Regions from separate parts of the Homo sapiens genome. Here all the other regions are linked to region 3. The links come from fine-mapping of genetic effects on gene expression. A gene starts in region 3. Each other region holds a variant in brackets. All regions are shown on one strand. Distances are from middle to middle.

Region 1 (4,249 bases), 760 kb after region 3:
CTATGTCAACAAATTTGATAACCTAAACGAAATGGATGTTTCTACAACCACAGAACTCAACTAGAAACGTGAACTGGAAACAGAATCTAAAGAGACCTGTAACAGTAGCAACGTGGCATTACTAATCAATACACTTAAAACATTGTAAAGCCCAGGACTCAATGCTTTCCACAGAACACTAAAAGAATAATTAATGTGAAACGTTAATAAACTTTTAAAAAGTTAAAGAGGATGGAACAAACTCAATTCGCTCTAAAAAAGCCAGTTTAAAAACACAAACTGCAAAAGGTCATCCAAGAATACGTAGATAAGCTAAAAGACTTTATATCTTTTAAAGATACTGAGTTTGTAAGAAAAAAGAAATCTGCCCACAAAAATTGTCCAGGCCCAGATGACTTTATTGGAGATCTACAAATAATATCAATTCTACACAAAGTTTTTTGGAAAATAAAGACCAGGGAACACTTCCTAACTAATTCTATGAGACCACTATAACAGTGATACCAAAAGCAGATGAAGACATTGAGAAAAACAATACAGGAAAGAATTGCAGAGCAATATCCTTCATAAAAATACAACACTTTAACAACACTTACTAAATTAAATCCAACTATATAAAAAAGGGATAATATATTATGAACAAATAGAGTTAATCTCAGGATTGCTAGTTTGGTTTAACATTCAAAAACCAATTTGTATAATTCATCATATTAATAAATAAGAAAGGAAAAAACTATGATAATCACTCTCAATATATGAAAAAAAGCCTGTCAAAATTCAACATTCATTTGTTATAAATACCATGAGTAGATGATCCTTCCTCAACCTAATAATTGGCATGCTTCGAAAACCTGCATTTAATATTAAAGCCAGATGGAGTACACATTTTACCACTCCATTTATATTTAACTTTATAGAAAATGCAAATGAATCTATACCATCAGAAAGCAGAGCAGTGGTAGTTAGGGGTTGGAATGGAGAGTTTCAGGGGTGGGCAAGAGGTAAAGATTACAAAGAGACCCATGGAAACTTTAGGACTAAATCTATATTAATTGATGTGATTGTGGTTATGGTACAGTGACATATAAATATTTCAAAACTTATCAAATTGTACATTTTTCTATATGTAGTATATTGTATATTAATTATGCCTAAAGAAAAGCATTAACATAGCGTGTGCTTTGATTTCATCAGAAATAACTGTAAAGGAATTTTTAAAAAATCTTTAAATAGACCAAATGCAATCTAACGTAATAGGATCAAAAACATTTTCTTTTGAGGAAACAAGAGCTTGAAATATGAACAGTTTTTGGAAAGGAGTAAAGTTCAGTAAGACTTAATTACCTAAATATAAATTAAAGTTTTTAAAAAATGTAATTATAATTTTCTATAGAAACAACAATATAGTTTCATCATGGAAACTACTGGTGAATATCTTTACATATTTGACAAGTGAATAAAGTATGTGGCATATACATTCTGTCCATAGAAGAATTTAAAAAATTTTTTTAAATATTTAATTTTTTAAAATATCTATTTTCCCTTATAGCCATTTAGAACCTTTTTGTCAAAATTATAATATTGAATGTATTTGCCATCTGTGGCTATGCATACAAAAGTTGCAAGTATGTCTTATTTTCTTCCTGAATACTGTATCATCATGTCTTTGCTTCCTTTCTCTTTGAAGGCCAGAAGATGTTGTGCATTTCAAACAGACAAAT[G/C]AAGCTGTAGAAGATTGTTTCTTGAAGGACTCAACCAAATAAGAAATATCTAAAGTTGCATGCCTCGTTGTAAAGGAAGTATATTAAACATACACTCTGACAAAATTAACACAGCAAGATTGCACTTACACTGTATAATCACTACACAAAAAGCCAATAATCACTTTGTTCAAAAGAGATAATGCCACATAATATAAGTAGTAGTTTAAGCAATTATCCAGTAGAACAGTTAATCATCACCCTCAGTTCACAGCCTTTTGTTTCTCACCAATACACATGTCAGATTGTAATTAAATGCACTCACACTGTTCAGGGCAGAATGAGAGTCCTGGGTTGAAATGTGGGAACCAAACTGAAAAGCACAATAAAGACATGTTTAGACAGCTTTTTAACTGTATCTGCCTGGCATGGGGTCTTGGTTGACAAATTGGCTATATAAGGGTGAAACCACACTGGGGCACCTTATTTATAGAAAAAAATAATTTATGCCTATAGAAAAGTTATGTTATTCTGTTTATAAATTTTCCAAGCGTTGACTTTCTGAGTGAATTATTTGCCAGATATATATTTTTTGAAATTAAATTTATAAGAAAAGAGAGTTTTTAATTGCACTGGTTTGTTCAAACTGTTTTATGATAAATATTTTAGAAATCTAAACAATGCATCTGGATCTCCGTATCTTCTCTTTCACTTCTAATAAATAATAATATAGGGTTCCATTTGCAGTTACAGTAGCAAAGTATGCTACAGTATAATTTTGCTATTTGATTATTGTATTTCTATCCCCTGAAACACAATAATCAAATAGCAAAATTATATTCACTTCTGTTGAAATTGCCTTTTTACAACTTTATAATTTTTAGTAGAAAATCATGATTTATAAATATAGATAATAAAAATATTCAGAATCAAATGCAATCTAATACCATAATGAAGTGGATGGTGAAATTTTCATTCTTTCAATATAATCACAATTTCATGATTACTATGGTTTTGTTTGATAATGTGATATTGACTTCCATGTCCTTAACTCTCACCCAACTTTCCTACTGAGCTCTGTACCTATGTATCTAACAATCTACTAAAACAGTACCTTTCAAACTTTAATCTTTTAATCTTTCTATGCACAATTTGAGAAGTTTACACAGCACAGTTATAGTGGTATAATTTTTGGTGTTTGACTGTGTACATGCTATAACTAGTGAGTTTTGCACGATGGTTTCTTATTGCTCATTAACATTCTTTTATTTCAGATTGAAAACCTTTTACCATTTTTGTATGACATGCCTGGTGTTGATGAAATCCCTCAGCTTGTGTTTTATTTTATCTTATTATATTTTTAACTTATATTTTAGATTAGGGGTTTGTTATATAAGTAAACTTGTGTCATGGGGATTTGTTGTACAGAGTACTTCATTACCCAGGTATTAAGCCTAGTACCCAGTTGTAATTTTTTATCCTCCTCTCCCTCCTCCCACCCTCCACCTTCAAGTAGACACTAGTGTCTGTTGTTTTCTTCTTTGTTTTCATGAGTTCCCATTATTTAGGTCTAACTTATAAGTAACAACATGCAGTATTTGACTTTGTGTTCCTTCATTAGTGTGCTAAGAATCATAGCCTCCAGCTTCATCCGTGTTTCCACAAAAGACATGATCTTGTTCTTTATTATGGCTGCATAGTATTGCATCGTATATATGTACCACATTTTCTTTATCTGATCTGTCATTGATGGACATCTAGGTGGATTCCATGTCTCTGCTATTGTGAACAGTGCTTCAGTGAACATTCACATACATGTCTCTCTATGGTAGAATAATTTATATTTCTCTGGGCACATATCCAGTAATGGGACTGCTGGGTCTGGTGGTAGTTCTGTTTTTAGCTTTTTGAGAAATTGCCAAACCTCTTTCCACAATGGTTGAATTAAGTTCTACTCTCACCAACAGTGTATAAGTGTTCCCTTTTCTTTGAAAACTTGACAGCATCTGTTTATTATGGTCTCTTTAGTATTGATTCAGTTTCAGAGCTCAAACTGGTCTGTTCAGGGAATGAATTTCGTCCTAGTTTAGTCTTTGGAGGGTATATGTGTCCAGGCATTTATTCACTTCTTGGTTTTCTAGTTTGTGTGGATTGAAGTGTATGTAGTAGATTCTGATGGTTATTTTTATTTCTGTGGGGTCAGTAGTAACATCCCATTTATCATTTCTAATTGTGTGTATTTGAAGCTTCTATCTTTTCTTCTTTATTCATTTAGCTAGCAGCCCATCTGTCTTACTATTTAAAAATAAAAGCTCCTGGATTTGTTAATGTTGTGAATGGTGTTTTTTCTGTCTCAGTTTCCTTCAGTTCAGCTCTAATTTTGGTCATTTCCTGTCTTCTGCTAGCTATGGAGTTGATTTGTTCTTGACTCTATTTATTTCAGTCTTGATGTTAGGTTATTAATTTGAGATCTTTATAACTTTATGATGTGGACATTGAGTGCTATGAATTTTTTTATTAACATTGCCTTAGCTTTGTCCCAGAGATTA
Region 2 (4,249 bases), 22 kb before region 3:
TTTTTTTTTTACTTCATTTCTTCTCTGATGTTGTAATTGTAAGAAGAAAATGAACTTGCCACACTCCTCTTTCTTCTTGACCCCAATGAACTATGAAACTGCTAAATATTTTTTCCTATCTCTTTTATCTAGCAATCTATCCTCAAAGGTGTGAAATCATATAATGTGTAAGACAGAATTGTTCTCTCACATAAAACTGTAGGTGTATGTTTATATATATGCAATTAGAGAAATCTTCACATTCAAATTAAATTCGTAGAGGATCATGCATTATATGTAATATAATTAGGTTTATTACATATAATTATATTACATGTAATTCTAATGTGAGGATTTCTTTAATTAATTTTACCCTTTAAATTTAAGCACTGCAGGTAATAAATATTTTTGTCCTTGTGGACTACATAATCACATATTCTTCATTTTTTTTCCTTTTTTTACCTTTTAAAAATGTAAAAAGCATTCTTAGCTAAGAATGGGTTTGGCTTGTAGATTATAGTTTACTGCTGTGAATTATAGATTGCTTACTGCTGCTTTAAAATAAAAATCTCTGAGTTAGAGAAAAACAACAAAACTCAATAATCAGTATTGATGTTAGATGTTCTACATCTCAAGAAGTACTATGGAGAAAATATACTTATCAATTCCCAAGAAATCTGAGAAACAGAAGTAAATGGAGTCAGATCATTTATGAATAAATCAGACAAGTTTTTAATCCACTTGCTTATACCCCTGAGTCTCCCTTTTTGTTTTATGCAACTGCCATTTCCTGAAGATGATTTCTTCCTTACATCGAGACAGGGTTCTCAGCCTCACCTCAGATTTCCTCATGTGACAAAAGAATTATCATGTTCATTTTCTCAATCTCTTATCACATACCACTTTTATCTTTGATATAGCCCAAATGTTACTGTTCAGAAAATTATTTCTTTTGCCCATTAATTGGATCTCATCAACCTTTTCCTCCAAATGTTTTATGCCACATTTAATTAACTCAAATTACTCACAGCTGATTTCCAGGCCTGCCAATATACCACTTCTGCCTTTCATTACTCACCTTGTTTCTCTGCACTTTTTTGGTCTATCATTTTTGCCTCAAATTTCTCATATTTAAAAAAGCCTCCTTGTCATAGCATGCATAATTCACTCATAGATGTGGAAGAAACAGATGTAATACCTTTCTGCCAAGACACCCACACTCTCTCACAATGCCCAGTCATTTTTCCCTGGGTTGTGTGTAGGATGGGTCATTAATATTTTGACCTATTCAATACTAAGCCACATATGCTACGGTAACACCTCCAAATTCGGCCTGTCTCCCAGGCTGTCAACTTTAGATCAAGCTTTGTCTCTTGACCATCTTTGTTCCCTAGGGGAATAATTTCTAAACTAATTACACCACAAATTTAATATATTACCTCAGCGCACACCAAGAGCTGCCAGATGAGGTAAAGTGCAGAAACAGTTTCTGAAGAGTTTCATCAGGATCTACTACCGTATACCTGACACTTTTCTTAGTATTAGAAGCTTAATATGGCAGTGGTTGTCTTTGTGACAGTTTGGACACCAGAATCACTGTTATTTACTACTCCAAAATAAGCTTGAATGCCTCTTTCCTTCTCCTTGAGAATTATTCTAGTTAGTCTTGAAACTTTGATGTAGTTGATCTTCAAGACA[A/G]GTATTGCCATAAATGTCCCTGCACCTGACTTTCAAGAAAACTCATTACTCTCATATTTCCCCAGGATAACTATAGAAGTTTAAAACAATAAAGAGTAGTACCATGAGAGAGAAATAAGGTGGGTTGTTGTTCATTTATTCAATGTTTATGAATAGTTGTCATGCACCAGGCATTTTGCTTTTGATGCCAGAAATAGCAAACAGTTCCTGCTTTCAATGCCTCCCTTAACAAAGTCCATGAGTTTCCATCAGAGAGAATAGTATAAAGAGTGAGTTAAGAGCCAGCATAGGGTATGGGGGTTATATGTCAGCACAGGGACGTAGAGAAAGAACAAGTTTAGGGCCAGCATAGGGTATGAGGGTTATATGTCAGCACAGGGACTTAGAGAAAGAAAAAGTTTATCATGAAATACTTTTGGAGACCAGGACACCTGATTTATGTTTTGAGGAAATTTAGGAGTGTGAAAGACAAGAAGGTTCACAAGTGAACCTTCTAGGCAGCGGCAACAGCATGATTTAAAGCAAGAAAACATGAAGAGCAATGGTGGTTCAAAAGAACTGTCAATAGATAAGTATGTCTGCAGCAGAAGGCCCATTTGAGGCAGTAGCACAAAAGATGCATGCTTGCTAGCAACCAAAATTTGCAGTGGATAATCTACTGTAAGGATGCATCACATTTTTATTTTCTTTCATTCTAGAAGTATTTAGTGAGTGGCTCCTATGTGCCAGTAATTATTGTAGGTAGGTCCTGCAATGAAAAAATAATAAAAAGCCAAGACCCTGATCTCATGGAATTTGCACTCTAGTTGTTGGCGGTGGGGGGTGGGACGGAGAGGGGGTTGGGAAATAAAGTAACTCAAAAATATATCGGTTATCGCATAGAAACAAATATGTGGATAAAATTGAAGACTTTTGGTGGTGCTGGAGGTGGTGTAGATTAGAAAGGGCTTTTTAGACTATCTCTTTAAGGACTTGTTCCCTTGTGGCTTTCCACCTCTTAAAGGCAAGGAAATGTCTACCCTTCAGACAATAGAGAGCAAGTATTGGAAAAATTTAGTCAGTTAAGCTTCAAAGTCTAAAATCTTCATAGAGATAAATTTTGCTAAAAGTTTATAGCTATCTTTTACTGTATCAGAGAATTAGATGGATAAATCCAAATAATTTTCTACCTAGGAAAAAAATATCAGGGTTTGCCATGAAAGAAGCTTATGAGTAAGAAGCTTAAAAAAAAAAAAAACTAAACTAAACCTTGTTACTTGGGGAAATTTTGGGAAGAAAAGAGCTGGTACAGAGGTTTATCAAAGGAAGTGGCCTATAGATCCCTCAGCCCCTTCATAACTGGTCCCCAAAACCCTGAGCTCTATCTAGGTCTATATACTAAGTTCCTCCAGCCATATGCCCTGACACTTCTTAGAGAAGGAAAGGTAAAGTTGTAGACTCAGAAGCATTATTTGAAAGAACCACTCAGATATGGGAGTTGACTGAGATGCCAGGATTAAAATGTAGTGTGTGTGTGTGTGTGTGTGTGTGTGTGTGTGTGTGTGTGTGTGTGTGTATGTTTTCTAGCTACCCAGATAAGTTACAGATTATATAAAAACATATTTTCTTTCTACAGTAGAGTTGTAATCTATTTTGTAATCCTGCTGCAGTAGCAAGATACACAAATATTTCTGGGTAAATACATGGACTATTCGGGGTCAAAGAAACTCTTATATATGCTTTCCCAAAGTTCAAAAAAGAAGATACACAGCTTTTTGAGGAAAAATAATTGAGTAATAATTCTCATGCAATTGTTTCTTCTACCTTCCTTGGATTTTTCCATTTCAGAATGAAATGCAGTTGCCACCTTGTCCTCAGGCTAGTTAATAGTATTTGCACCTTTTTAGACTATGGACTATCACAAATAAAGACAGTAACTAGAATTGGATTGTCTACCTACATCAGACTCCTCTTCTTTTTCTTTCAAAGAAATTTGTGCTCACTACTTCCAGAGTCTCTAACCAGAGCTCAGATGGTTTTCCTTTATTTTCATAGCCTCTCATTGTCTCTGAGGCAGCTGTACTTCTTTCACAAAATACATATATCATGTTTTTGTTGCAATATCATTTTTGTTTGGAATTGCTTTTTTTCTTTATAACTAATGTTGGGTAAGGAACAGCTATCATTTGGCAGTCTTAAATATATTTATAAATAGAAAAATGTATTCTTTTAATTTTAAATAGTAATAGGACAAATTTCAGAAGCTAAAAATATACAGGTCATACCCCACCAGTCTTGATAGGGTTTTGTTTGTGGTTTTTTTGGTCTTGTTTTTTAATAACAGAGGAAATAAATTACCATTATTATTTGAAACTTAGACTGATGCAGAGGGAGGTTAAAAGATTAAACTGTGAGCCTGAGCTTGAGCAGAAAGGTAAGATTGTTCTTCCTGATTCCCTCAGCGAGTCACTGATTCAGAGGACCATTTACAGTCATCACCTGGCAGCGTGCATGGGGCGATTGGTTCCAGGTCACCCCTGTATCAAAACCCGCAGATACCAAAATCCAGGGATGCATACCTCTCGGGTACTCT
Region 3 (4,249 bases):
ATTTCTAAGATCAATTGTACTAATCTGTATTTCATATACCTTAGGTTATTTAGAATAACTATATTAAAATTCATTATTATTCTATATTAGTATTATTCAGAATAATGATGTATATGGTTAAGTATTTTAATAGTAGAAAAAAGGTGGTAGAATACAGGGTTTGTTGTTGATCTTGTTCTTTGTTACCTCATAGTTAATGTGACTGAGTAAAAATTCTAGAATCTCAAGAAGTTAATATTTCAAACCAAAACCCTGTTTAACACATAATAACAACAACAAAAAAGGAACATAAGGTTATTAAGACCCCAAGGGGCAGTTCCTGGAGTGGATCACTCAGTAGTGGGCTTTGCCCACCCCCTACACCCTCACCCTATGCCTCATATACTGAAGATGGAGACAAAGAAACAAATTCAAATCTTTCTAAAGTGCATTTTGTAAAAACGAAATTTGTAATAGAAAGGCAATAATGATATATAATATGATTAACACGATTTTCCATACTAGTGTCTTTGCTTAAAAATAATATTTGAAGAGGAAAGAAAGAGGTAAAATTTTAAGCTACCAACTCTGCCCCTCTTTTTCATTGATCTTCTAATTTAATTTACTAAAATAAAATTGCATGGCTGTTGAGTCAGACAGTCTCTGTAATTTTAAGTTTAAAGATAACAGATCTTCCTTTAAATAGAACATTGGCACACAGATACCCCACAATCTGGCTTATTGCAACTGTTCTCTGTTGGTGAAGTGGCACGTTTGCAATCCCCATAACAGCCATCTTAACCATTTCACAGCATATTATTCAAATGTACATCTCTAGGTGGCAACAAGGATAGGCACTTGGGCTCAGTAGCAAGGGGTCTGTGGGGAAAATCCTAGGACGAGGGATAGGAACCTGCAAATGGCAAGACAAACTAGAGGATACTCAACCAGAGGCTTAGATTGGGCAGCTCCATTGGCTTTCTGACTGCCTACGAGGAAAACCTCACTGGAAACTCTTTTGAGGTTCTTGAGGAATCCTAGAGGCAAACGGACTCCTCTGCCTTTTGGAAAGGATTTGTCCCAAATCTTAACAGCTAGCTGTCTCAAAATCCAACTGGACTAAAATTGCTTCAAGAAAAACTGGATGGACTGGCATTCACATTTTTACTTCTACCTATGCCTATGCATAGGGAACATCCCTCACACTCCAGTAGATTCTATCTGTCCTCTCTAGCTTTCAAGTAGCCACAGTGACTACAGCGAAGGGAGTTAATGGGATAACATGTTGGTACAGGGCCACAAGCAGGATATTTCATTCCATGCATTTGGGGGAAGGACACAGGTAACAGTATACAGGGAGAATACCGAATAAGAAATCTGTGTGAGGCAATGCCCTTTTTGGGACCTTGACAAAATCAGTCATGGAACCCAGGTGGTGGATAAGAGCTGACGAGAGTTGGTCTGTGAATGGGCACAGCATCTCCGAAAAAGATCAATGAAATGATTGACAGAGAAAATGGCAATTGAAGGAAGAAGCGATGTCAAGTGCTGCTCAACCCAAGCTGAACTCCAGGAGATAAGAGAAGTTTCCCCTCCAGATAGAGGCTCTTTCTAAAGGTTCAGTCTTGAAGCAGGTGTTTTGCCATTGAGAGGGGCACAGACCCATTCTGATAACTGGAAAGGGAGAGGACCAAGGACTACAGGAAGAGGGACGATTTCTGATTACCTCAGGCTGCTGCCAGGGACCTACTGCTCCAAATCCTCAAAATACTCAAGCGAAGGTAAAAGGCACAGAAAGCAAAAGAGTAACTCAAATTATTTTAAATTTTGAGTCCTCTTCACTGTCTACGCGAATCTGGCACTGAAATGGTAGATCACGTTCAAAAGAGTATAGAGGCAAGAACGCCTTCTTTGTTTGCCCAGTAACACTGCTCCTCCAACCTCTGCACTTGGCCGCCCAACATTTCCATCCTAGTTGTTGCTCCTTTTCTCATTGCAGAATGCAGCGGGGTTCTCCCCTTCTTCCCTCCGTGCTGCAAACCCCATTATTAACCAAGCGGAAAGCTCCACGCAGTGCGGCCAGGGCGCACCGGTGCCGGGCTGCTTACCTTCCCCGGACCTAGTCAGCGCAGGTCCCCGCGCACGCCGCCACGGGCCGCAGTCCCGCCGCGCCCGCCGAGTGCTCGGTCAGCTCGCGCCGGCCCGCGCCCCACCTGCCAGCAGCAGCCTCCGCTCCCGCCGCGGAGCTCCGGCTGCATGAAGTCATCCCCGCCCCGGGACGGATCACCACATTCCGCGCCAGCCACGGGGGGAGCGGGGCCGCTCCCGACCCCAGGGAAGGCAGCCTGGAAACGGCGCTCGACGATCGCTGCCCCGCGAGGTTGTGGATTGATTTTCTATTAATGCTTTTACAGCTGCAGCATCGCTGGATTATGGATTGAGAGAGAAGAGCCAGGGGGGCTTTCTCTGCATAGCGTCCTTCCTCCGAGCGCTCCCCCGTCACCCCGGCTGCATGGACTGTTCCATTTGCCCCTGTGGGTTTCCCACCCTCTTCATCTTCCTTATCAGCATTGTTCATTTGGCTGAATTTGAGAGCAGGAATTGTCTTTTAAGATAAACATTCAAGCACTACAAAAACATTTTAAATTGGTAATGAAGCTTTCTAAGCCCTTCATAGCTCTCTCCATCACCCCCGCCCCCGCCAACAGACACACACGCAAACACACACACACACGCACACACGCGCGCACACACACGTATGCACACAGCCAAACCACTCACAATTTTGAAAGCTAGAACCTTTCGCCCTCTCACCTACGTAATAGAACGGGAATCTCCTAAAAGACTGGAGAAGTGGGGCCAACCAGAGAAAGCGCTCAAAGAAACAGTGGGGTGGCCCCATGATTTTGTTGTGTTTATGGTGCACTTGTGCACAGATGTTCCCTCTAACATCTCTTCCTCCTACTTCCTTTGCTCTGGACCCCCTCCCCTCCCTGCCACATAATTGGGCAAACTGTTGTGGTGACAGCTGTAACATTTGGGAATCAAAAAGCAGAGTCTACATTAGCAAATGACTATCTCTCTTTCCCTAAGGATTTATGAAAATTTGCTTTGGGAATGAAATAAGCATGTATTCATATAAGCCCTTTCCTTCTCTTTTTAAATTAACACTAGCTGTTAACAAGACTGTTCTCTCTCCCCCACCCTCCCGTTTTGCTTCTTTCCCAAATCTCTTCAGGTTTGAGGGTTGAATGTTTAAGGAAAAATGGGACTAAATTTGCTCTCTTTGTAGCTGAGCCAGGGTTTCCGCCTAGCTGTTGAGTCATTTTCCAGTCGGGAGGTTCCTTGACACTAGGGTTCTGTGGAATGGAGTTCCCTCTTTTAACTTGCCTTGCTGTTTGAATTGACCGTCACTTGATACAGGCCAGCTTTACACTATGGATTTGTCCAGCAACCTAAACAGTGCAATTGCACAAGGCCAGGGAAGCACCTTTGCTAAATGAGATGTTTCCATCCATCTATCAGTCCCAAAGTTAGGTGATAATGTAGCCAACAGCTTTCCAACAAAACTTAGTTAGAATTCTTGGTCATAGAATATATGCTCTTTGAAAGCTAGAACAGCTTAATTCATCGCTCTGAGACTCACTTTCATAACATTAGCCCGTTAATATTACCATAGAGCAGGAGATTCTTAATCTGTATAAATGGAATTCTATTCATATACTCCTTTTATACAGATTAAGTATAATGGGAAAAATCTCATTTTTAGTTTCACTAACTTCTAACTGAAATTTAGCATTTAGCATGTCCTTTAAACATAATGTAGGCAACAAACCACAAGAATGTTAGGAGTACCTGGGACTTTGTTTCCAATAGAAACAACAGCTAATTCCTTATTGCTGTTTTTATAGATATCTCTATCACTACACTGATGTTATAATCAAATCATCACTACTTTTTTTATTTAATAGACTATATTTTTCAGCTTTGGTGTCCAGAAAAATTGAAGAAATAATACAGGGTGTTCCCATATATCCCATTCCCAGTGTCTCCTATTGACATCATACAATAGTAAGGTACCTTGGTGTAATTCTGGCATTGCTATAAAGAACTACCTGAGATTGGGTAATTTATAAAGAAGGGCTGGTGGTTCTGTAGGCTGTACAGGAAGCATGATTGGGGAGGTCTCAGGAAACCTATAATCATGGTGGAAGGCAAAGGGGAAGCAGGCAGGGCCTACATGGCTGGAGCAGGAGAAAGAGAAGGGGGA

Alleles and levels. Positions count from the first base shown, and alleles are read on the strand shown. Sizes are in standard deviations (SD) of each study's normalised expression. Not every link is listed here.
With allele G in place of C in region 1, the expression in hippocampus of the gene that starts at base 2,216 in region 3 is higher (moderate effect, 0.71 SD a copy in GTEx).

The links. PIP is the estimated chance that this variant, and not a neighbour inherited with it, causes the effect. A credible set is the group of variants that fine-mapping cannot tell apart.
Region 1: its variant is the best candidate, but not a certain one, in a credible set for the expression of PKIA in hippocampus (GTEx, PIP 0.85).
Region 2: its variant is the best candidate, but not a certain one, in a credible set for the expression of PKIA in whole blood (INTERVAL, PIP 0.83).

Annotation. Positions count from the first base shown.
Region 1 is chr8:77,751,963-77,756,211 of GRCh38, reverse strand. No RefSeq gene overlaps it. Among named protein-coding and RNA genes, the nearest start is that of PEX2, 750 kb to the right of the region's middle. The variant G/C (reference allele first, on the strand shown) is at 1,722.
Region 2 is chr8:78,535,843-78,540,091 of GRCh38, reverse strand. All of the region lies in intron 1 of PKIA (cAMP-dependent protein kinase inhibitor alpha), which reads right to left. All of the region lies in intron 2 of PKIA-AS1 (PKIA antisense RNA 1), which reads left to right. All of the region lies in intron 2 of LOC105375911 (a long non-coding RNA gene), which reads left to right. Among named protein-coding and RNA genes, the nearest start is that of PKIA-AS1, 21 kb to the left of the region's middle. The variant A/G (reference allele first, on the strand shown) is at 1,678.
Region 3 is chr8:78,514,307-78,518,555 of GRCh38, reverse strand. It overlaps PKIA (cAMP-dependent protein kinase inhibitor alpha), which reads right to left and starts at 2,216. Exons shown (of 4, transcript NM_006823.4): 1 at 2,088-2,216. The region is part of intron 2 of LOC105375911 (a long non-coding RNA gene); the gene reads left to right. RefSeq lists an enhancer at 1,542-1,651 and a silencer at 1,972-2,271.